Linked DNA regions of Homo sapiens: all the other regions are linked to region 2. Evidence: fine-mapped expression QTL. A gene starts in region 2. Each other region holds a variant in brackets. All regions are shown on one strand. Distances are from middle to middle.

Region 1 (8,176 bases), 26 kb after region 2:
GAGTGAGCTGCAGGAAGGCACCTGCAAAGGCACAGGGGGGTGAACTGCTGAGCCGGAGGGACTGGCCCATGCCCAGGAGGTGGTAAATGGAAGGAGGGCATTGCTGTCAACACCTAGCCCAGCTCCCCAGCTCTGGAGGCCACATGCAGCAGACACAGACCCTCAGAATGGAGGTGTCCTCCCCAAGCCCCTTGTTCTATTCACAGAGCAATAATAGTCACATTTATTTTCCTTCCCAGTGCTCGTTTCTGGAACACGCCCCATGTGCCCAGCACTGAGCTGTTCATCATTTTTTTGTAATCGACGCGCCAACACAGTGAAGCCATGACTCTTGTTTTCCAGATACGGAGTGTTAAGCTCAGAGAGGTGATAAGACATGCCCCAGGTAACCCGCTAGTGGATGCTGGAGTCAGGATTTTGAACCCAGATGTGGCCTTTCCCCTCTGCCCTCTCCCCTGTGCTGCTCAGAGAGGGCCCCACACTTGATATTTGTGTTGGAGAGACTGGCCAGCCCAGCTTGTGTGCCAGTGCAGAGCTGGGTTTGGGAGGACAGGAAGCAGGCCAGCACGCGAGGGGCAGCTGGGCGGCCCGGGAACTGCACCTCCCTCAGGTCATTGGCCCGGGATGGGAAGGTGATGAGTCAGCAGTTCCCACAGCCACCTTTCTGGCCTGCTCCAAGGACTGTTTTTAGAAACCTTGAGTGGCTGGTGGCTTCCTGTAGCTGATCCTTGACCCCACCCCAAGGTCAAGGTAAATCTGAGGCATCTGCAGGGGAATGGGGTAGGGAGCGTAGGCACGCGCTTACCCTAACTCATATAGTCAGGTCAGATCCGTGGGTATGACCGCACAGCACAGCCCTTTATCTCTGCTATGTCACCAGTGTCTACCTGCACATTCCCTGCTGTGCTTTGGTTGGTGTTTCTCAGCCCAGTTCCGGGTGGCAAGTGGAGGGCTGGTTGTTCTGTGGACAGGGCCTCACCTGCTCTGCTGGGTCACCAGCTTGCTGTTTGGCTTCACCATCTTTCTGTTTGGCTTCACCATCTTTCTAGCCTCTCTATAGATTCCTCATCTACAGAATGGGAATAGTGTATCCATTTTGTCTGGTTTCCCTTCAGGGTCTTAGGTCTCAGATTAGACGGTGGAAGAGGAGTTATGGGTGTGAGAGGTGCTTGATGAATGTGGGGTTTTGGTGGGGAAATGCTAACTCAGGCCCTTATTAACCAAGTCGGGGAGGAATGAGCCAGGCCTGAGAGCACTGCTGGCTTCCCTGGAAAGGACAATGTGCCAGGGGCCCAATCCAAGTGCAGGGGCTTGGGCTAGAGCTCTCTAACCCCACCTTAGAAGTAAGGCCTCTTCCTAGTGACCCACAGCCTTATGGAGGAATGGAGGAGGCTGCTCTGCCCAGCTGGACAGGCTCAAGGGATCCCAGCTAAAACTGTTTCCTGTCCCTACTGACACTGTTGTCCCACTAATTGGGAGACACCCCTTGGCATCGCTCAGGGCAGAGAGGTGTCAGACACCCCTGGGATCTGAACTCTGGGGGCAGAGAAGGGGACAAAGTCACAAATCCAGGCCTCAGTGTCCCAGATAGGGCAGAGACACCAGCACAGGACCATGGACCTGGGCCATAGCCACCCTGGGCAGGGCAGTGGTTGTGAATTGGGGTAGAGAAGCTATAGGTAAATGAAGGATGTCCCTCTTGTCATTTAAGCCTCCCTGGACACATCCCACCTTCCCTGAGAAGATGAGGCAGGGGTAGATTTTGAGAGCATGGCCTCAGAGGGTCATCTGGTATGTGTGTTTGAGAGGGAGGGGGCTCTTTCCTGCTCCCCAGGCCCACTTCTCAGGCACACAGCAGTGCTGTGGGACCAGGAAGGGGCCCTCGAGGTCCCCTGTGTCTGCCCGCACAGGGATTTCCAGTGTCAGTCACTGATCAGCTCAGCCCTCCAGGTGCCTGAGAGCTCACGCTGACATTCCATCCTGAGCTTGGGCCCCACCAGCCCTTCACTGCTTGCCTTAGCCAAACCTGCAACCTCAGGTCAGCTCTGCCCTGGGCTTGTTCTCACAGGAGGGATGCCCAGCTGCCCCCCTGCCCTGGGGGATTACCGTCCCAGCCTGAGAACAATGCGGGCAGGGTCACCTGCCTTGTTTTCTTTGTTCCTCCCAGTGAGGACAGGGCTCCCAGGCCTGTGAAAGTCAGAAGCCCAGGGTTTCTGCTGAAAACCTGCTCCCATCTGGCAGGGGCTTGCCCTCCTGAGCGTGAGACCTAGCAGTGCCTCTGGGCTCTGCAGAGACTGCTGAGAGATGGCCCAGGAGGGCAGGCTGGGGGAAGCCCAAAGGTGGACAAGAGGACAGTTCTGCCTGTGTGCATGCACAGCCTGCCCCGTGCTAATGTCAGGGGTGGGGCTGCGCTCAAGTCCCTAATGAGGGAGAATGGATTGGATCTAGGGCAGTGCGTTTGAAACTTGGCTGAACATAAGATTAGAATCACCTGGGGGAGCTTTGCAGCATCCTGGTTCGCAGTTCAAGCCCCAGACTATTTCTCTTGGCATCTCTAGGGGCAGGACCCGGGCAGGAGTATTTTTCCAAGCTCTCTCAGATGATCTCAGTTTGTAGTCCAGGTTAAGAAGTAGTATGGTGACTGATGAGCTAAGTCCTGAGGATAGAAATGCATTTTCTTGAATGTGCTATGGAGAGGAGGTAGGGGAGGTATCACCTGCCCAGGCAGGGGGACTCCAGTAGTCATAGTCCAACCTCCTCATTGTACAGAGAAGCAGGCAGGCAAAGCAATCAAAGATTCTTCGAGGATCTCAAGACAGTACTGGCAGAGCTGAGCTGAGCCTGGGTTTTTAGGCCCTGCGCCGACGTCCTAGCACACCAAAGCCTCCAGCCATTGATTTGGCCTGCCTGCCTTCTTCTCAAATGTGATCCATACTCCAGATAGATATCAGAGCAAATCTGAGAAAAGAGATAAGCAACCACAAGTTAACAAAGTCCGCTTTGCAACAGCCCAGCTCTGGTCTTCGAGGAGACGGGTGTGGCCCTGCTGCCTTTCGTCCAGTATCTGCTCCTTCCCTGGGAGAGACAAAGCTCAGGCGAGCTGGGTTGGCTGCTGGTGCAGGTATCAGGGTGGCACCACTGGGCCCTTGCCAATACCTTGCTCGTAAACTACAGCTGCCCTCCGAGCCACACCCTGGTCACCTGACCCGGGGGGAGAGGCAGTGAGGAAAATACCAAGAATTCCTTCTCTCTGCCCTGCATACTCCTTTTTAGACAGGAAGATGGAGAAGGCCTGAGCCTCCCTCCCCCTGTCAGCTTCCACTAGGGCAGCCCCTGCATATTAGAATCACTTCTGGAGCTTTTTAAAAGTTGTGCCAGGTCAACAGAATATCTGCAGTTGGGGACCAGGCATAGCATTTATTTAACCTCCAAGGGGATCTACTGGGCAGCCTGTACCGAGAGCCACTGCCCATTGTCTTGCTTCATGTTCACGCTGGGTGGGGGCTGGGAGGGAGTTGGACTAGAGTTCAGAGAAGCTGCCATCTAACACCTCCTGGCCTCAGCCTCACCTGGGGAGGTACTGGCGGCTGCCAGGGGTGATGGGGGGGAAGTGGTGAAGACAGGATGGGACCAGTGGTGGCATTTCTTTCCCTCAGCAGCCCTGCCCAACTTGCTTGGTTGGACGAGAAACTGGCCAGGGTGGCTGTGAGCCTCTGAGGGGCAGAGGCCAGGAGAGATGGGGCCTCTGAGGGATGGGGTGAGGCATCTTGGGCTTGCCCGTTTCCCTCTGCCCCTGACTCCCAGCCATCAGGTGGCCAGGGAACATCTCTGGAACCACAGTCCCTTCCTCCATGTGGCCTGAGGGAGCTGATGGATCAGGCTGAAAATCGACAGTTTTCTCTG[T/G]TAAAATGGGGAAATGGGAAGAGTTGGCAGTTGTGAAGAAGGTTAGGGACAGTGTTCTCACCCTTTCCTGTCTTCCAGGCACAGGGCTTGAAATCCCTAGTCCTTCTCTACTGCTTGTCCAGGACATGCCAGCCCATCTGCTTCAGCTTTGGGGGTGAGCAGCTTTGCTCCTGGGTCTCAGATCTCTGCAGGGTCTTGTTCCTGACGGACACACGTGTGAATCACAATATTGATTGCAGATACATTTATCCAGTGCTTACTGAGTCCTAGGTTCTTTTCATGTGTGCAGAGTAGGTGTTATTTTACAGACAGAGAAAGTAAGGCTGAGAGGCTGAGTTATTTACCCAGAGGCTTGCTGCCAGCCATCGAGAGACCCCTCTGATTCAAATCCAGGTTGGTTCCACCTTTTCCATGAGCACAGGTCTGCATTTGGAAGATGGCCCTGTGGCTTCCTAGATAGAGCTAAACCTGAGCTGCAGAGGCCCTGCTGCCAATGGGATTGATTGAGTGCCCTCAGAGAGGAGGGGCTTTGGGATTCAGTAAGGAAAGTGGTCAGCTGGAAGTAGATGTGCAATTTCTATTGACTCTTCTGTTCCTTTGCCTGCTCTCGGTACATTTACTGCCCTCGTGGAGTTTCCCAAGGGGACAGGCCTCCCTGCAGGAAGGACAGTCCCAGTCACCTGAGGGACCTCTCCCACTCCACTGCTGATTACTCTCCCATCTTGAACCCTCTCCTCTGGGCTCTTGTCTGCCTCCCTCACCTTGCCCCTTCCCCAGCTCCTGCCCCCTGCCCTCTCCTCTCAACCTGGTGATCCCCACCTCTGCAACCCAAGACCAGTTGGAGGCTGGTGGTTTCAGCAGCCCCTGTGAGCCCCGCCGCCGCTGGGGTCTGTGCCTCTCCTTCCTGCCCTCTTGCTCTTCAGGCTTCCACCTTGTTTAACTGATGAATTTAGTGAAAAGCCAACTGCAGAACGATGCTGGAAGTGGTTGGGGATGGAGGGGCACTAGAGGACAAGTTAGTTGAGGCCAGGGAATATACCCTTATTTATTTAAATGTATTTATTCACTCATTCAGTAAATATTTGTTGAATAGCTACTGTGTGCTAGGCAGTGTTCTAAGTTTGGGGAATACATCAGTGAAAAACAAAACAAAAGGCCCTGTCCCCATGAAGCTGGCACTCTAGGGGAGTCTCTGCATGTCTGTGGATATTGCCTGGTAGGCCGTTTCACTTGCACCTAGAAGCTCACCTGCATGCCTTTCACCCCCGTCTCTAGATAGTGCAGAGGTTAGAAGCCACCTGGGCCCTCATCCCAGCTCCACAACTAACTAGCTCTGTGACCTTGGGCAAATGCTTCTGTAAGATGGGGGTAGTAATACTTTAAACTAAAATACAGTAAACTTTAGAGGGTACTGGCATTTTGTGAGATAAGTAAAGTGCTTGGATTTAGGTGCTTGTCTTCATAAGTGCTTAAATATCAATGTATTATTTATGAAATAAGAATGAATAGCCATGCCCACACCCCTTACAAGGTTGCTGGGAAGGGAGGTGAGAGGAATGATAAGTTTCTTTCTGTACTACCAAGCACACGCACATAAGAGGGTCAGCTCTATTTTCCCTTCCAGGGCCCAATTTTACCATCCCTCCGCAGGGCCAAGTGAGCTTTGACACAGTGAATTAAGAATTGATTGCTGGGAGTGGTGGCTCATGCCTGTAATCCCAGCACTTTGGGAGCCCGAGGCAGGTGGATCACCGGAGGTCAGGAGTTTGAGACCAGCCTGACCGACATGGAGAAACCCCGTCTCTACTAAAAATACAAAATTAGCTGGGCATGGTGGCACCTGCCTGTAATCCCAGCTACTCGGGAGGCTAAGGCAGGAGAATTGCTTAAACCCGGGAGGCTGAGGTTGCAGTGAGCTGAGATCACGCCACTGTACTCTAGCCTGGGCAACAGAGTGAGACTCTCATCGCAAAAAAAAAAAAAAAGAAGAAAAAAGAATTGATGCAGCTGGGAATGGTAAAGGAGGGTTGGCCCATGAACCCATTAACCCATTAACCCATTAACCCATGAACCACTGACAATCCAGGAGTCTAGCAGAGGCTGGAATGGAGGAAGACTGTTAAGGCTGTATCCTGCAGAGCAAGAAAGAGTCCTGTGATCCTAAAGTGATGGCGGCTGTGGAGCTGGAGGCAGGGCCGGGAGTAGCTCTATGGGTGCCAGATAGCTGTGATCCCAACAGGCTAACATCTTGACTTTGGTTTCCCTTACCCCACCCCGTAAAGGGGAAGCCCCCACCTTGCCCTGCCTGCCCATGTCTGAAGGTGGGTGGCATGTCCCAAAGCCCCAATCTAGATCCCTCTCTCCAGGAAGGGGATGCCCCACCACTGCCAAGGGAAGCCTCAGATCCTTGGGGGATGAGGGGATGTCTGGGAGTCAAGATTACTCAGTCAGCACAGTGAGCACCTGGGAAGGTGGGGTTGGGGCAGCTGGACATCTGAAGCTCTGGGCAAGGGCACACATGGCTGTTTCCTCACTGGAGCAACAGCATGAGAGCTGGTCAGAGTGGCTGGACTGGTTTTAGGGCACTGTTTTTTCAGCTGGTGGGAAGTGGGTGGGAGTATGCACAGGCCTCTTTCCTGTGGCCTTTATGGGGACAGGAGATAGGAGAACAGCAATTAGGACCCAGATGGGCCTGGGTTCTAGTCTTGGCTTCACTGTTTTTAGCACTTTCTTAACCTCTGTAAGCCTCAAATCCTCAGTTGCAAAATGGAAAAAAATTATAGTATCTTCCCAGCAAGAATCTGTCCTCTCTAAATGAGCTAAAGGCACATAAAATGCTTTACCCAACTCTTGGCACATAGGAAGCCCTCCGTAAATCACAGCTGCTTTATGGTGACGGTGATGGAGACAGGGAACTCTACTCCGTTCCCAAACAAGAGCTGGGCCTGAGCTTTGTGCAGGCTCCCCTTTTCCCATTACTCTCCAGGCTTGTATGGAAAATGAAAATATTGTCTCGTGTGAATTTGGGAGCCAAGTTAAAGAATCCAGCCAGTGAACAGGGGCCGCCTCCTCCCGCGAAAGCTGTTTCCCTAACCCCGAGGACGGGACGCCTTGTCTGACAGGGTGTTTACCTGGCTCTCCCATGTCCCTTCCCCTAACCCAGTGATGGCCTTAGTCCTGGGTCAGCTTTTCTGTTCTGGGAGACCAATTAAAGCCCCCTCCTCTTCCTGCATAATCCCAGCCATGATCAGTGAGGTATCCACAGATACACACAGTGGGAATAGGGAGCTAGCACCCCAAATTCACATCCAGACCTCAGCTCCCTGAGCCTGGCTTTCCTCCTCTGCCAAGTGATGCCTGGCAGAATGACAGGAAGAGCCAGTTAGGTAACGTGTGTAAAAGCCCCGGCGAGGGGTGTCTGACATACAGCAGCACTAGCACAGCTTCTCTCCACCAGCACTTGGGTGGAGCTGAGCTGATTCCCAGGCCAGCTGCTTGGGAACCACAGCAGAGGAGGCAACCGCAAGGGGCAGTGGGGCAGCCCAGGGGCAGGCAGACCCAGGCAGATGGAGGCAGGGAGGCTTGAACTTGCAGACTTGAAACCAGACAGTCTACAACCTAGCCCAGTTCTGCCAGGTAACCAACCTCTCTCCGCCCAGTGGGTGTAATTGCCACCACTGGGTCTTTGCAAGGAATGAGTAGTGCTTGCAGCCCCGGGGAGTTAGGGGCTCTCTCCAGTGCCTCCTTTGCCCGCCCCTTGTTGGGCAACCACAGAGGGATACTAGAAGTCATGGGGAAAGCACATAATGCTGTGGCTGCCTGATAAGCCAGGGCCTGAGGCTGCCAGCTGGTCCCCAAAGGGCACACCATCAGTGGGGTGAAGGGTAGAAAGCCCAGCTCTTCCACCTCTCCCCACTCCCAAACTTAATGCCTTCTTCAGTTACCCTGTTTTGCCAGTTCTTTTGTTTGATGTCTCCTTAGCACTTACTAAATGATTCCCAAATCACAGGTTACCTTTGGCACTAGCATTTCCCAGGGGGAGCATTTTTGGCCTTGTGGGTGTGGTTGTCCTGTGAATTGCAGGGCATTTAGCATCTCTAGCCCCTTGCCTTCTCAATGCCAGAGCATCTCCCATCACCCATTAGAATAAACATAAGAGGAGGGCAGGGATTCCGTCCGTTCACTGCAGTATACTCACTGCCTAGAACAGTGCCTGGTACATGCAACATTCCTCCTTAGAAAGCATTTCCAGACACTTCCAAAAGGCACTACC
Region 2 (8,176 bases):
GGCATGTCGGCTGGGCGCTTTGGATCACACCTGTAATCCCAGTGCTATGGGAGGCCAAGGTGGGCAGATCAGTTGATGTCAGGAGTTTGAGGCCAGCCTGGCCAGCATGGTGAAACCCCATCTCTATTAAATATACAAAAAATTAGCCGGGCGTGGTGGCTCATGCCTGTAGTCCCAGCTACTTGGGAGGCCGAGACATGAGAATTGCTTGAACCCAGGAGGCAGAGGTTGCAGTGGGTTGAGATTGTGCCACTGCACTCCAGCCTGGGTGACAGAGTGCGACGCCCTCTCAAAAAAAAAAAAAGGAGCCATGTCCAACCACCCATTCCATCATGGCCTGAACTAGTGTTTTGTGTTTACTTGAGAATGCCCTTGGTCAAGAGGAAGGGTCCATTTGCTTGCTTGGGAGGGGCCTAGAATTTTATTGTTGGTTTACATTCCTCAGAGCTGATTGCCTTCCAAAAGGTTGCACTCTGAAATTATTATCAACCCTGATCAATAATCATAATACTAAGAACTACACGTATGCTATTGGAATGGATTTATTTATCAGCCCTGTAGGAAAATATATATCTCACATCACCTCATTCCCATTTACCCACTTTTCCCTTTTCCAATCTTAAGGCTCGTGTTGTCTAAATATTCGATAGTTTCAGCACAGTTTACATTTTATAAAAGCCCCCACTGGCTGCTGTGCAGAGAGCAGGTGTGTGCCCCTGATCTACAGAAGGTCAAGTTGATCCAACTATCTGGCTGGGGCAGGGGAGTTGGAGAGGGGAGTGGGGAGATGGGGAGGGGAGGGGAAGTTGGGGGAGGGGAAGCACATTCAACTGGGATGGAGACAAAGGAGAGAGGCAGGAGGAGGGAGAATGAAGAGCTGGGGAAGGAGCTTTGGAAAAATACAGGAAAGCAAAGGATGCGGCGACAGAAGGAGAGGATGAGGAGTCAGTCAGCACCACATGGAGAGCAAGAAGGAAGAAGGGGACAGGAAATGCAGAAACAGAGTGGAAGGACAAAGAAACTACAACATACAGAGGCCTCGAATAAAAATCAATTCATCTCAAAGTGTTCAGCATTTTCATGAGGCTGTGAGACCGAAATAGGAAGAGGCCCTTTATTTTCTTAGGAAGAGAACACAGACCGGAGGTGGGAGAGGAATGGTAGGGAATTTTCCAAACAAAGAGAGGGCCTGTGGCCTCTCAAACTGCCCCCACCCCATGCTCACTGAAGCGTTCACACTGCAGCCCTGAACTCTTCACAAACAGGGTGAACTCCATCCAGAGAGGGGGGATCCGGAACCCATGCTTGGTTTCCATCCCAGCTGGAGGGCTGGAGAATGAGACTGCAGAGCTAGGGTTCAGGCCACAGCCTGGGGGACAGGGTAGGCAGGAGGTCAGCAAGGCTTAGAGAAGATGGATATGTTGGGTTGGGTGAGAGGCCTGGTGCTGGGAGTGGGTTGTCTACAGAGAAGCACCCCCAGGGCCTTGTCCAGGATGATCCTTGGCCAGGGGGGTCCTGAGGGGACTGGCACTGCACACCTCAGGGATGCAGTATCAGGAAATCTGGGGCTCCCCAGCTTCCTGCTCTGGTCTTCTTCTCTGGACACGCTCATGTTGCCATAAGGAGAGACAGAAACATCAGCAAAATCAGATCAATGCTTCCAACTGTATCCCTAACCCCTCCATTCCAGCCAGATTTGGAGATAGTACAGATACCCCCCTCCCCAAGTAAAGTGTCTCTTGACACCTTGGGGTTCAGGCCACAGCCTGGGTACAGGGTGGGTAGGAGGTGAGAAATGACTCCCCTTCTTCTCGATGGAAAGAAAAGGCCTTGGCCAGGGGACAGTGCTCAGGGACTCTGGCCACTCCAGTACCTGCCCCTACAGAGGCCAGAGAAGGGCAGGGCCAGCCCCTGGTACAGAGCACTGAAAGGAGGTTCCCCCTCCAACTTCTGACTGGTGCTGGTTGAAAGACTGAACAAACTAACCCACTGAGCTTTTTTCCTCACTGCAAAGTGGGTCGAATGACAGGGCCTGCTTATGATGCATGGAAGGGATTCAGTACTTCCTGGGGTTTACAAGAGCTCAGAGAATGGCAGCAAGGCGAGTTAGAAACATCCTGGGCACCTGTTTTTAACAAATTCATTCACTCCTTCATTGCACACATGGTTATTGAGTGTCTGCTATGTATGTAACAAGCACTGTGGATACATCATTACACAAGACAGATTCTCCATCTCCCCAGCAGACATTTCCGTGTGTGTGTGTGTGTGTGTGTGTGTGTGTGTGTGTCTGTGTGTGTGTGGCGGGGAGAGGGCACAATACAGAGTAAACAATAAATAAAGTTATATAATATAGCAGAGGGAATTTAGTACTAGGAAGGACATAAAGCCAACGAGGGAGATAAGGTGGCGGGGGTGGAATTTTAAATCAGCTGGAGCATATGTATGAAAGTGGGCCGGGCGCGGTGGCTCACGCCTGTAATCCCAGCACTTTGGGAGGCTGAGGCGGGCGGATCACCTGAGGTCAGGAATTGAGACCAGCCTGGCCAACACGGTGAAACCCCGTCTCTACTAAAAATACAAAAATTAGCTGGGCGTGATGGCGTGCGCCTGTAGTCCCAGCTTCTTGAGAGGCTGAGGCAGAAGAACTGCTTGAACTCGGGAGGCGGGGGTTGCAGTGAGCCGAGATAGTGCCACTGCACTCCAGCCTGGCGACAGAGTGAGACTCCGTCTGAAAGAAAAGAGGAAAGGAGAGGAAAGGAGAAGAGAAAAGAAAAGAGAAAAGAAAAAAAGAAAAGAGGCCAAGTGTTTCCCGTAGAGATACTGTGTATTGGGGGGGCGCACAGGGGTGCCACGAATTGAGCTGCCCACTCCTTCCAGATGCAGGGTTCTCACCCGGGTAGGTGAGAACGGGGTGAGGGGGAGGAATCACGCGTGGGTGGCTGGATTAGTTCCTGATGTCCTCTGATTCCCTACAGCTTCTTCAGCCCCGTTCTAACCCCCTTCCTCAGGCTTACAAGAAAGTGTGTGGAAGAGAGACACGGAGAGACTGAGCATTAGACTTTTTTGGAAGAAACATCAGTAAATGAAAATGGAATTACAATAAAAATAACAAAAGCAATAAACTCCTGACCTCAGTCACAATCATTTTAGTTAACACGCCAGTCCTAATAACAAACACGAGTCCCTGAGACCGCAACCCCTCGGGCACCGCAGGGCGTGCAGGTCTGGGCGGGCGGCGCAGCCTCCCCTGGCGGCTGACCCTGGGAGCGCGGGGAGCGCCAAGCCTCTTCTAGCGCTCACCTCGCGCTCACTCCTGCGCTCGCCGGGCTGCTTGTGCGGGGAAGGGGCGGGGCCCGCCTGGGCTCCTCCCCGGTCGGAGCCCGGAGCAAGGGGGCAGAGCGCGCCGGGCGCTGGTTAAAGAGGCGTGCGGAGGCGGGCGCGGCGCATACTGCTAGTGGCGCGCGGAGGAGCGACGCGTGGAGAAGCGGCCCACGTGTCTGCCCAGAGTCAAGTCCTGTGTTCTTCCCGCTCCTTACGCATCCGCGGTCCAGGGCGCCCTTTCAGCCCCGCTGGTGTTCGCCCACCCCGGGCCGCGTGAGTGGGGCCCCACGCAGCTCCCCGCACTCCGTGGGCCAACTTGGCCAAGCAACTCTGTCCGGGGAGCGGTGCTTGCGGGGGGTGAGTACCGGGCACTGCGCATGCGGAGCTCCAAATTCAAACAGCTGTTTTCAGAGGCTGGAGGGCGGGCGGACTGGTAGCAGCTGGGGCTAGGAGAGGCTTTCTCTAGGAGGCGGCCGCTCGGGAGCCATGGTGGACCGGGGCCCTCTGCTCACCTCGGCCATCATCTTCTACCTGGCCATCGGGGCGGCGATCTTCGAAGTGCTGGAGGAGCCACACTGGAAGGAGGCCAAGAAAAACTACTACACACAGAAGCTGCATCTGCTCAAGGAGTTCCCGTGCCTGGGTCAGGAGGGCCTGGACAAGATCCTAGAGGTCAGTCGCCGCCTGTACCCCCATATACATCTGAAGCTGGCTTGAGCTTTAGGGGGCGCTGAAAGGAAGACCCCTTCACAGCTTTGGGTGACCCTCAGTCCCTGTGGAAGGTCCAGGGGGTGATGAGAGAGCGTGTCTCATCATGGGTCAGGCTTCGAGGATCTGTCGCTCACCCGAGGGACACAGGGGTCCCCCAGGCGCGGAGACTCTTTGGAACTTAGTTTGGCCGGAGACAAATTGGAGTTGATTCCCGGGTGAACTAGGCTCCACGGTGTTTCAGTGTGGGTGTGACGGTACCTCCCTCCTTGGGAAGAGGCTGTGGGACGGATAAAGGCGTTTATCTTTCCCTGGAGACGCTCCCGGAGTCTGGGAGCCAAGCCTGGTGCCATCCCCTCGTGTCTCCACCTCCCCGCTCCAGGGCCAGTGCCACGCCTGCCAGGCTTTTCTTAAGGAACGTGAACCCGGCAGAGTGGCGGGAGGGTCCCTCAGCCCGAGCCTGGGCAAAATCTTCCGCCCCCAGCAGAGTTCCGGAGAGGAGCTGGAGGCTCTGTGGGGCCCGAACCCACGGGATGAGGGCTGGTGCCTGGAATGCTGGGGACGCGCTCAGGCTTCCGGGAAGGCTTATCTCGCGGAGACATCCTTCAAGGGCTTGGAGTAAAACTTTGTGAAAGTAGCAGGTTGCACAAACGAATAATACCCGCGTAGTCCCTTTATGATGGGGGAGGAGAGTGTGTGCGGAATTGGGGTGGGTGGGGGACTTCCCTCCGTGCTGACATTGGGAACCGCTTATTTTCTGGTGCACAGCCCGATGGGTGGCATTGACCTCACTTTGGATAAACGGGCTGCCTATCCTGGCTGAGACCTTGGGGCCCATTTGGGGACCGAGGCCCTCTACCCCAGTTTCTCGAGGGCTCAGCTTCAACCATCAACTCTTCTTGGCCTGCTCCCCCAGTGGAATGACCAGGACCTGGGTGAAAGTTCTAGATTGCAGCAGGTAGGGAGTAGGGGTAGATTGTCCAGGGTGTTACCTTGCTCTCAGGGTGAAAGATGCCAGAAAGGAGGTCTGATGAGAAGCAACGTTTAGTCTACAGCAGCACCTCAATACTTTATGCCTATCTAGTCGTCGCTCATTTTCCAGCCTCCGTTTCCCCATGTGAGAAACGGGAATGAGCCCATCCTCATTCCTTATTTCTGCCACGGACTGTTAGGTTGGAAGCATTTGGAAAACATCAAAATCTTGTCCCCAGATTGATGGACATCACACAGATAAGCATATACGTATTTGCTGGCAGCCGTGTGTGGGGAGACTTGTCCTCCAAGGGGTCCTGTAGAAGGGGAGGTTTAGTCTAGCAGGCTTAGTGTTGGATTTTAGTGGAGAGTCTCTTGCCCTGTAGCAGTTTCCCGGGTAGAGGCAGATGGGAGGTGATGGTGGGGAGGATAAGCTTCAGTAGATGGTTGGTTGGTTTACCTCCTAACAGCAAGAGTCCTGGCATGAAGAGTCTACATGGCTTCCTTCTGATGGGCGTCTACCCTGGGGGGTGTGTTGTGGGGAGGGGGTTGCTTTATGATTTCCCTTGAGGAAACAATTCCTCTAGAGAACAAGTTTTTGTTTAGTTTGTTCCAGGGCTTTGTTTAGAGGGGGAAGAGGGCAGGCAAGGATGATAAAGCCTTGAGCTGCCCTCGAAGTGTTTCCCTCTAAGCTGTTGCTCCAACACTGCAGGGGAAGGAAGGAAAGAATTCAAGGCTAAATGTGGGAAAATAAACTTCAAAACACAAGGCAAAGGGAAAGGCTGGCGGGGCATACGGCGGGGGGGGCGGGGTCCAGGGGTTAGGCAGCCGGGTGCAGCTGGTGGTCATAGCTTTGGAGGCTAGACGGCTTCTTAAGGTATTTGAACAAACAAAATGCCTCTTATTTAGCAGTCCTGTTAAATCTGTCAACATTTACCCCCCTACCAAAAAAAAGTAATGGGCAGGTAATTTTTAGAAAAAGGACTTGGGCATCAAGCCAGTCTGCTTTGGAGGCTATTATAGATAAGTTCTTGAACAAGGACAGCCCTGTCCTCATCCCCGGCCAAAGAAACTCCCAAACCAACCCCAACTGGGCGAGTCCCTTCCCGTCATAGGAAAAACCCCAAGAAATGAAAATGGACAAGTAGAAGCATTTGCTGACATCAGTTTTAATCTGCAGAAATCTGCCTTGCTCTGCTTTCTTGTGACTTGGGGTACTGCCTCAGGCCTCAGGATATTGGTTTAAGGAAAAATGAAAACTCAAAAATCTTCTTTCCCATCTGGCTGCTTGGGCATTTTCCACCTGACGCTCTGTGTTTTAGCTGGTTCTGAATCACCTTGGAATCATGAAGGAGCCCCTAGCTAGGAATTCCTGGGGTACAACCAGGGGTGGGACAAAGATTGTTGGAAGAGATGGGGTGCAGTCTGAGTTGGGGTTTCTCTTACCCTGAAAGTTGTGTGTGCTCTTTCAAATGTGTGAGAAAGGGAGTTAAGTCAACTTTCTTTAGAAATACCCCCCGAATTGTCAGATACTTCCTTCCCTCCGCTGTGGTTGAAGTGAGGTGCAGGCTGACTTTCAAGTGCTCAGTGACCCGCCAGCCTGGGACCACGTGATCGTCCTCTTTCCTGTCTTCAGAACCATCTTGAACCCTTGCTCTCAAGCAAGATCTTTGGTGACTCATTCTCCCAACCTCTTCCTAAATTGCAGACTCACACAAGGGAAGTTAACATTTACAGCACACCTACTCTGTGTTGGGCATTGTGGGTGCTATTATCCTCATTTTATGAGAGAGGGCACAGGCTGGTTTTGCCATCTGGCTCGGCCATTTACCCATCAAGCCATGTAACTTAACTTTGCCTTCCTTTCCTCATCTGCAAAATGAGTGTTTGGTGAGGCTCCAATAGAGTAGAAACATTAGGCAAGATGTCTATAAAAAGTGAACAGGTCTCCTGACCTTAGCATTTATTGAGGAAGGCAGCTTTACCTACCTGCCTTATTTCAGGTACTCTTTACAGTATGTATTCAAGTAAGCAAGCTGAAGCCCAGAGAAGATAGAATGGCCACAGGGACACCACAGGAGGCACAGCCTATGGGGCGGGACGGGGAGGGGCAATGACCAGGCAGTCTGCCCCAGGAGCTTGCACCTCCCTCTTGGGCCTGTGAAGATTGTTGCTCTGTAACTGAGCTTAGGAAATTGGTTCAGCTGGACCCTGATCTGCTGGAAAATTCTATTTTCTATTTCCCCTAGCACAGGTAATGGCATACAGGCGTCTCCTGTGTTGTTGCCTGGCTGACCCAGCACCTCTGTTACTGAAGTAATACATCAGTCCACCCCTCTGCGCTTCTCATTTTGGAAGTCCCCAACCCCTGTCCCACCAAAAACAGTGGGGGTGTGATTGAAGGGGAGGAAGGACAGCCCTTCTCAACCTTCTGCCTCTGGTGGGCAGTGATCAGAAACAGGAAGGATTTGAGAGCCCACCGTGCACCAGACCACTTTGAATAAGCACTTTATATACATTCTTATTTTAATTTAATCTTGCAGGCCACCTCATAAATGAGGAAAATTAGGGGAAAAGCCAGTGTAACTTGTCTGGGATCACATAGAGCGGAGTCAGTTTTCACATCTAAGTTTCATGTTTCAAAGTACATGGAAATTAGCAAGCATTTATTAAGTATCCACCATGTGCCAGACACTGGGCAAGACTCTCAGGATACAAAGAATTAGGCTACACTCCGAGCTGCTGGAGAAAAGGATACATAAACCCACTGGGAACAAGACAGTGGGTGTGGGCTACAGAAGAGGTTTTCAGGAGGTCGCTTAACGAGGGTCTGGTCCAGCCTGAGGGGTCAGGGAGGGCTCTCAGGAGATGACCTCAAGCCAGAGTGGGGTCTTGGATTAGAAAGAACAGCTGGGAACCTGGGAGGTCAAAGCTGCAGTTAGCCTGGATTGCGCCACTGCACTCCAGCCTGGGCAACAGAGCAAGAGCTTGTCTCAAAAAAAGAAAAAAAAGATTAAAGAAAAAAAAAAACCTAACTGGTAAAGGAAGGGAGAAGAGACTCCTAACAGAAGATGGAGAGTGGCCCTTTCTCCTAGCCTGGGGAAGGCAGACTGCAGGTTTCTTGCTGTGGCTCTAGAGAGTCCCTTGTCTCCTGAGGGTGGAGCAGGGTTGC
Region 3 (8,176 bases), 46 kb after region 2:
AAGCTGAAACAACTATTAACTGGCAGCAAAGCAGCTTCCCTGACTTGCATTCTCATTCCTCATTCTACCCTCTAAGTTTCTGATCTGACAGGGGAGACATCTTCAGAGAACCCAGAGTCTGATGGAGGTGAGAGACAGCGTCTCCCTTCAAGGAGTCTAATCTGACAAGGAGGAGAGCACAGAAAGACCCTCAGGGTCCCAGCTGGGCTTCTTATCTCCTGCATGATCCTGGAGGAGACATTTAGCTCCCTGCCAGAGGTGATGAAGAGAAACCAGGATGTTTGGGTTTCACCTCCTGACTGGAAAGAGCCAGGCAAGGTAATCAGCAGCCACCATTGCATCTGAAGCTCTCATAAGTCTGGGGTAGAGTGGTGGGGAGGGACAGGCAAGCTGGGCTGCACAGCTCTGGGTGGGGCCTCCAGAAATGAGGCCCCTGAGGTTTGGTCTCAGCTCTGCCATTCATCTCTCCATTCTTGAAATAACAGGTTCCCGGTTTCCAAATTCATGCACAACTGGTCCAGGAACCAATGACAACTCGTGAATTGTCAGGATGTATTTCACAGTGAAAACCCCTCCCTAAGATCTCTGTCCCGTCTATCCATCATGGCCCCATCACCAGGGTCCAGGCCACCTGGCCCCTCACCTGGATCTCCCACAACAGCGTAGGGCCTGGCACCTGGTAGGGGGTCCACAGATATTTGTTGAATGAATGAATGAGCCCCATCTGCTGGTCTCCCTGCCTCTAATACTGACTCCCTTTCTACCTGGCCATTACTGTAGCCAGCAACCTAAACTCAAACCTGACCCATTTCTTTTCTGTTTTAAACTCCTCAGGGGCTCCCCATTGCTCTTCCACCCCCTCCCCCCCGCCCCACCTCTCTCTTCAGCCTCCTCTCCTTTCCCACCTCTCTGGGCTCCAGCCACTTTGCCGTTGCTGTTTCCTCTGCCCTGATGCCCTTCCTCTCTCTCTCCTGGGTAAGTCCTGAGACCTAGTGGGATTAGATATGGATATCACCTTCTCTGGGAAGACTTCCACAATTACCTGTAGCCCTCCCGGATTCTGGGCCAGGTGCTCCTCCTCTGTGTTCCAGAGCCCCTTCCTCAGTAAGCTGCCTCTCTCCCACCGAGCTGTTCTGATGTTGTTCCAGCTCCCTGCCTCCTGGTCTTATGCCTCCTCCCCTGACTGGGAGCCGCTAAAGGGCACAGGGAGTAGCTTGTCCACCTTCAGATTCCTGGGAGCCCAGTGTGGAGAGGGGCCCAGCTTTTCCATGTTTACTAAATGGAGGGTAAATGAACTAGAGGCCTGGCCCCTCCTACTGGTAATTCAGTCCCTCTCTTCCTGGGGCAGAGGCCAAATCAGGGGGCAAGGCTTGTTCCAGAAGGGCGAGTCCCCACAAGGCCAGGTGGATGATCTTGAGGGCCCTTGTGGCAGGCTGAGTTGGCCTGGTGAGTCACCTTATCTTGTGCCAAGTCACTTGAATCTGCAGGGCAGTACTGGAATAAAGCACACCTTATTTCTCCCCACCCCAGGGAGCACTGTCATTGGCACCCCCTTTTCCACTTGCCCCATCTCCCCATCTTCACCTCTTACTGTTCCCAGGTGATTCCGGGAGCTGGGCCTCCCAACCCAGCAGCTCCCCAGTCCCCACGGTTCCCTCAGGATTACCTCTGCTCCCAGCAACCCTGCACACCGGGCCCAGCCTCTCAGTTCATAAAGCCCTTTCACACCCATTCCTGGGTGGGATTACGCAACAGCAGGGAGCCAGGTGCAATATTTTACAGGCCTCAATTTAAGGGCCTTTTCCAAATGAGGTAATAAATGTTTTGGTTTGATTTTCCAGGAAAACAAGGCCTAAGGCTAGAACTGGGAGATGGTCAGAAGAAGTAGCAGAAAGGGATGTAGAGGTAAACATGGGGAAAGAGGAAAAGGTCATACATGTTCATTTTAGAGCTGTTTCAACTGTGGGCAACTGGGGCTTAATCCCACTAGACCTCCCCTGAAAAACCTGTAGAATACACCTCAGATTTGTCCATCTGAAGGACAGGGACCATTTATCCACCAATTCCACCCTTGTTGGTTAAGGATGGCCCCAGGGAAATTCATCCCCACCCTCCTTTCATACATGTGGATGCAACAGGCGGTATTATCAAAAGATGACTGCGACAATATCTCCCCACTCACATTCTCATCTGCAAAATGAACTGGCCACTCCCCAACAGGAAGCAGAGTCTATTCCCTTTGAATGTGGGCTGCCCCCAGGACTGTTTTAGTCAATGGAATATGGCAGTGATTCCTGTGATTTCTGAACCCGTGTGTGTGTGTGTGGGTGTGTGTGTGTGTTTTGTTTTTTTGTTTGTTTTTTGCCCAGGCTGGAGTGCCCAGGCTGTTGTGCAATGGCACGATCTCGGCTCACTGCAAGCTCCGCCTCCCGGGTTCACACCATTCTGCCTCAGCCTCCCGAGTAGCTGGGACTACAGGCACCCACCACCATGCCCAGCTAATTTTTGTATTTTTAGTAGAGACGGGGTTTCACCATGTTAGCCAGGATGCTCTTGATCTCCTGACCTCATGACCTCATGATCCACCCACCTTGGCCTCCCAAAGTATTGGGATTACAGGTGTGAGCCACTGCACCTGGCCGAACCCACATGTTAAGGCCTGGCAGCTTCCACTTTGGTGCTCTGGCGGAAGCCAGCTGCAATGTAAGAAATCCAAGTACCTTGAGACCCACACTGTGAAGAAGCCCAAACTCGCCCATGGAGATGGCACATGGAGAGAGAATTGGCCCCACTGAGATTCCATCTTGAACACTGCAGGCCCAGCTGATGCCATACAGAGTGGAGCCCAGCCAGCCCGCAGATTGCAGAATCATGAGCAAAATAAATGATTGTTTTCATAATCCTGAAAGCCTGGGAGTGGTTTGTTACACAGCAATAGATAATTGGAACACTGGCTGGGCTTGCCCTGAGCTATGTGACCTTTGCCGGGCTTTGGAGAAAGCTTGGAGGTAGAAAGGTAGAGAGACACCTGGGCACCCTGAGGTGGCACTACAGCAGCGGTGAAATGCCAAGTGGGCTGAGGGATTGGGCCACCTGGCACAAATAGTATCTCCTACCTGGAGGCTAAAACTCTTTGCCCTCGAACACAATAATTGGCAGAGCTGAGACCAACTGTCACTGGGTCTTCTAACTCTTCACCCGGGGCTCTTTTCCTTATGCAACATCAAAGTTCGTACCTTCCAGATATCAAAGCCCATTCTACTTTAGGGTCTCTAGTTCTCCCTGCTATGTTTAAAGAGCCTGGGTTCTGCTACTATCCAGCTGCACGACCTTAATGGCCATATCCATCATTGACAGGATGCTTATAGGCACTGCCCAGGATACTTTATGCATATGATCTCACGTAATCCCACAACAGTGTTATTACCCAGTTTGGAAGCTGAGGCTCACAGTGATTATACAACAGCTAGAGGTGGAGTCTGGGTTCTAACTTAAGGATCCAGGGCCTGTGCTATTAACTACAGTGTAAGCCGGCCAGGGCAAAACTCTCCTGCTCAAGGACAAGAGTGTACAGAGAGGGTGTCCTGGCTGCAGCTCCAGCCACTCCCCAGAGTCTGCCCTCCTCATCTCCAAGACCAGTGAGGTGGACCAACCAACCCTGCAGGGACTACCCAAGAATCATCAGGGGATTCCTGGGCTCCACCTTGGGAAGATTCTGATTCAGAAGCTCTGGGGTAAAGCCCAGAAATACCCAGGTTCTGGGAACACCTGGCTGGAGATCTCAAACAAAGGTCAGGTCTCTCCAAGCTTCCCACATCCCTGCCAATCCATCCCCACCTGTTTTCATTCTGCATTGAAATCTGTGTTGACATCAATAATGTAAAATTTCCTCCTCCTTCTTTGATTCCTTCACCTGCAGCTCTGGCCAGCTGAGCTGCTGCGTTTTAGGTGTTGACATCACACATTATTTAACTCAGATGACCTGTATTTGTTGAGTCTCTCGAAGGTTGCCTAGAACACCTGATGCTGGTGACTGAGGGCAAATGAACAGCTACCTGGCAGTCAGGCCTGGAGCAGCCAGACACCTGCCTCTTTCTATCAGCTCAGATTCCCACCCTCAACAGTTCACTCCAGGGGAAATTTTCTGACCCAGTGGCCTGGAGCCCTTTTATACCAGCTCACGGGAGCTGGTGGTTAACTTTTTGGAAATTTTGCAAGCTGGTTGTTAAACCACAGCCACTACTAAAAAAAATTAAAAAATTAAATTATATAAATATGCAATTAGATGGTATTAAGAACAAAGGTCATAAGTATGTAAAATTCATCACTTCCTAGCTATTTTGCATCTTACTATTATTCATGCTTTTGAGGTGATTTTTCATCTTCTACAGGTATATGCAAATACCTGTAGATATGCTATTGTGTTTCTCTTTCCAACTTGACGTTTTGTGACACCATATTGGTAGCTAAAAATTGCCCATAGGACAAGCATTTACAC[C/T]GTGGAAATGGGCAAACACTACCAATTAGGGATCTCTGCTCTCCAGAGAACCAGATGTTAAACATTCATCAGCACATCACTGCACTGACCTCTGGAATGATTTGCAGGCTGGGAAGGGCAGGGGAGAGTGAGGTTTTGTCCATCCTGGAAAGGAAGAAGCAGTCTCTGGATTTCAGGGAGAATGTAATTCGTGAAGTTGTCACTTGCACTCCCTCGAGCGCCTCAGACCATTGCTGATTAGGGATGAAGATTCAAGGCCCATAGGAGCTAACTGCAGGGGTGATGAGTGAGCAGTCTATGTGTACTTGCCCCCTAAATGTACATAGAAGCTCTTGGGTCATGGTCCAAACTGGAGGCTTAAAGGGACTTCTGCCTTCAGCTGGAGTTCTGAGACTGCCGAGGGCCTAGTCCAGGAGCTGTCTTGCCCTCTGCTGAACTGCACTGCAGCTTCAGACAAGTCTCTATGTCCTGGGTCTCTTTATAGTTAAAGGGGAGACCCTCTCAGCAAAGACTAGGTCCTGGCAACTGGATGAAAGCTATTGAGTGTGTCAGATTCAGACTAAGGCTTTGCAAAGATCATATCACTGAGCAGAAACACACAGCCTGACACATAGGATACTGTGACTGAGGCAAGGAGGGAACACAGAAGGGAATCTAAGGTCTTCTAGAAATTCCCTGCCCTCGAGTGAAGAGGAAGGGATGACTCCACACAGGATGTCCATGGCCCCAGTCAGAAGTGGCTACTACAGAGGTCCAGGGCCCCTCGGTCTCACCCCACAAGCCAGTCGTAGTACAGCCCCGTCCCATCAGGGCAGGCATCATCCTGCAGACCATCAGGCCTGCTCCGGGCATTTGAGCCACATGTGGTGCTCTCCCTCTAACAATTATGGCTCTTAATTGAGCACTTACTTTTTGACAGGCTCTGTGCCTGGCACTGTACAAGGGGACCCCGGGAAAAGGTTCCTCTTTCTTTTGTTCTCTTCCACTCTCATACTCATGTGTGTGTGTGTGTGTGTGTGTGTGTGTGTGTGTGTGTGTGTCTGTGTCTGTGTTTGTGGTAGGAGGTGGAGGAAGGCATTGTGAAGGGTTGGAATCAGGGATCCTTAATGACCCACACAGAACTGCAGTGCGTTACTAGTTCAGGTTCTCCAAGAAGCAGATGCCATGACTGGATTAAACCAGAGAGGACTGCATTGAGGGAAACACCTATGAGAGGCTGGGAACGCTGTCTGACCACCATGCAAGTTCTATCCCAGTGCCTATGAAGGTTGAAGCTTAGGTGGAAGCAGTCTAGACTGCCACGCAGGCTAAGGAAAGTTAGGCAAGGCTGCTGGGGAGTCCTAGAGCCAAAGGCGTCTCAGACATGTCTCCTGGGAATTGACCTGCCTTGCTATTCCTGCTGCACTCCGTTCCTGGCAGGGAGCAGCCCACAGTCTGGGCACAAACTTGGCGATGGATTGGAGGCCACAGGGGAGACACCTTTCAGTGCCAGGACTTTCAAGGGGATGCTGGGCCCTCTCCTAGGTTTCCTTGAGATTTCCTGCTGTATCCTGATCACACACTCTCTTCTTTCCTTGAGCTCGTGAAAGTGGTCACTGTGGAAAGTGTCCTCACTGTATCATCCCCAACTCTCAGCCCCAGAGACCCTGACCTACTGTCCAGGAGAGGCACCCCAAGATATGCATAAGAAGTCTTTTCTTCAAGTGTCTCCTCTACTGGGTGGCCTGATTCTACACTAACCGTCTAGAAAGATTCACTTGGTAGTCCTCGCCCTCCCAGATTTTCTTGTCTGCTCTTCTCTGCCTGGCAGGTAACTTCACATTTGCGGCTGCTAACTTGTTCTCTAGATGTTTTATGGGTGTCTGTCCCATCTTCCCGGTGAGAGGGGAGGGGAGGGGTTGTTCTTGGAACTGCCTCAAATTCCAGGCTTGGCCCTTTCCTAGCTGCATGACTCAGGCAAGTCACTTCACCTACCCGAGCCTCTATTTCTTCATTGGAAAAATGGGGATTCTAACGTACCTCAAGGGTGAGAGCGATGGCACCTCATTTCAAATACCTTCCCAGGCCCTCTCATTGGTCTATCTTGTTTCAGGTTTCCTCTCCTAGTTAGCTTTGCCAAGGTGGGTCACATAGTTCAAAGACAGCCACCTAGGCTGGCCCGTCTTCAGCAGGGATTGTGGGTAGGGAAAGCATCTCAAATATATCTACCACACTCACCATCTTCTCTCCCTCCCACTCCACATTCATTCATGGATGCCTTCAACAAATATTTACCAAGTATCTTCAGAAACAGCACTGAGAGTTTGAAGGCAGGGGAACTAGGCCTAGACTTGTGACTTTGGGGACGGCATTGCCCCTCTATGGGCCTCAGTATCCTCTGTAACATGATGGAGGCCACATTTCAACTAGATCAAAGGTTCTCAGCCCTGGGAGAACATCAGAATCATCTAGAGAGTTTTAAAATAAAATGCTGAAACCCAACCACACCCCCACCCCTACTCCTGCAAAGATTGTGGTTTCATTGGCTGGAATGGGGTCTAAATGACACACTTAAAAAAAAACCCAGTTGATTCAAATATGCAACCAGGGTTGAGGACCATTGGATTAAAGGTGAATCATTAGATTTTTGCTAATAATTCAATGGCTAAAGTGGTGCTTAGCCTGCAAGAGGTGCTCAATAGATGCTCCTTGAAGGAATGAATTCCCTTCAGCTATAACATTCTGTTCTTAGTCGAGGGGGTACTGGGGAGCTCCAGTTGGACCAAAATGAAGAGTTTTCTCAAAACCAAAAAGACACTGAAGGAAGGAGGAACACTACCAGTTAAGGAGGAATCTCAGAGTGGTTCTTCCTTAGAAATGGACCAAGCTGGATTCTCTAACTCTTTTGATACTTACCGCCAGTGTGGGAGCCTGGAGGCTGGAGGACTGCCCTACAGCAGGGATGCGGCTTGAGGGTCTGAAATCTGGCATGAGATCCCCCTACTCAATAGCCCTGTGACCTCAGCAAGTCAATGAGCAGCCAGATTTTCACCTACAAACCAGGAATACATATTTCTCCTTCACTAGATTTTGGGAAGATTGACAGAGACAAAGGATTGGAAAGCACTACAGGAATGTAAGAGGTTATTCCTATTAAGCCGAATCCCTGGTAAATCCCAGATATGTGGCTGCCTGAAGTTTCCCTAAGGGAGCAGGAGAGAGAGGGAACTAAATTGTCCAGATCTGACTTGGAAAGTGACAGCTGTCCAGTCATAGTTCTCCCTGAACTTCAAGGAGTCACCCATTCCCAGGAGGGAAGGAATGACGATAATGTACATACTGCCCCACTTAATCACCTCCCAAAGTCCATACCTCTTAATAGTGTTGCGCTGAGGATTAAGTTTCAACATGAACTTTGGAGTGGAGACCATCAATCAAACCTTAGCACGTGGCAAGAGAGGAAGAGACAGGAGCCAGGCCAGCCTTGGTTCTCCTGAGATTTGTATCTTAACATTGACCTTCACCTTTTATAACTAGTAGGTTCCTTGGCACTCAAAGAGCCTTGACCCATCTAGGCACAGGCAACATGAAAAAGCCTGTAGGTGCAAAAGACCCTGCTGTGCTCCTCACTTTGCCCCCAATATCCAACAACATCCCACTGAGGTATTGAATTCCCAGTCATTGAAACTGCTCAGGCAA

Evidence for each region.
Region 1: its variant is fine-mapped to the expression of KCNK5 in stomach (GTEx, PIP above 0.99).
Region 3: its variant is fine-mapped to the expression of KCNK5 in subcutaneous fat (GTEx, PIP 0.98).

What each region holds. Positions count from the first base shown.
Region 1 is chr6:39,198,966-39,207,141 of GRCh38, reverse strand. All of the region lies in intron 1 of KCNK5 (potassium two pore domain channel subfamily K member 5), which reads left to right. Among named protein-coding and RNA genes, the nearest start is that of KCNK5, 26 kb to the left of the region's middle. RefSeq lists enhancers at 2,050-3,009, 3,010-3,969, 2,911-4,110. The variant T/G (reference allele first, on the strand shown) is at 3,904.
Region 2 is chr6:39,224,746-39,232,921 of GRCh38, reverse strand. It overlaps KCNK5 (potassium two pore domain channel subfamily K member 5), which reads left to right and starts at 3,447. Exons shown (of 5, transcript NM_003740.4): 1 at 3,447-3,996. The coding sequence starts at 3,811. RefSeq lists enhancers at 2,142-2,869, 6,955-7,249 and silencers at 3,157-3,506, 3,607-3,686, 4,700-4,769.
Region 3 is chr6:39,178,645-39,186,820 of GRCh38, reverse strand. No RefSeq gene overlaps it. Among named protein-coding and RNA genes, the nearest start is that of KCNK5, 47 kb to the left of the region's middle. The variant C/T (reference allele first, on the strand shown) is at 4,499.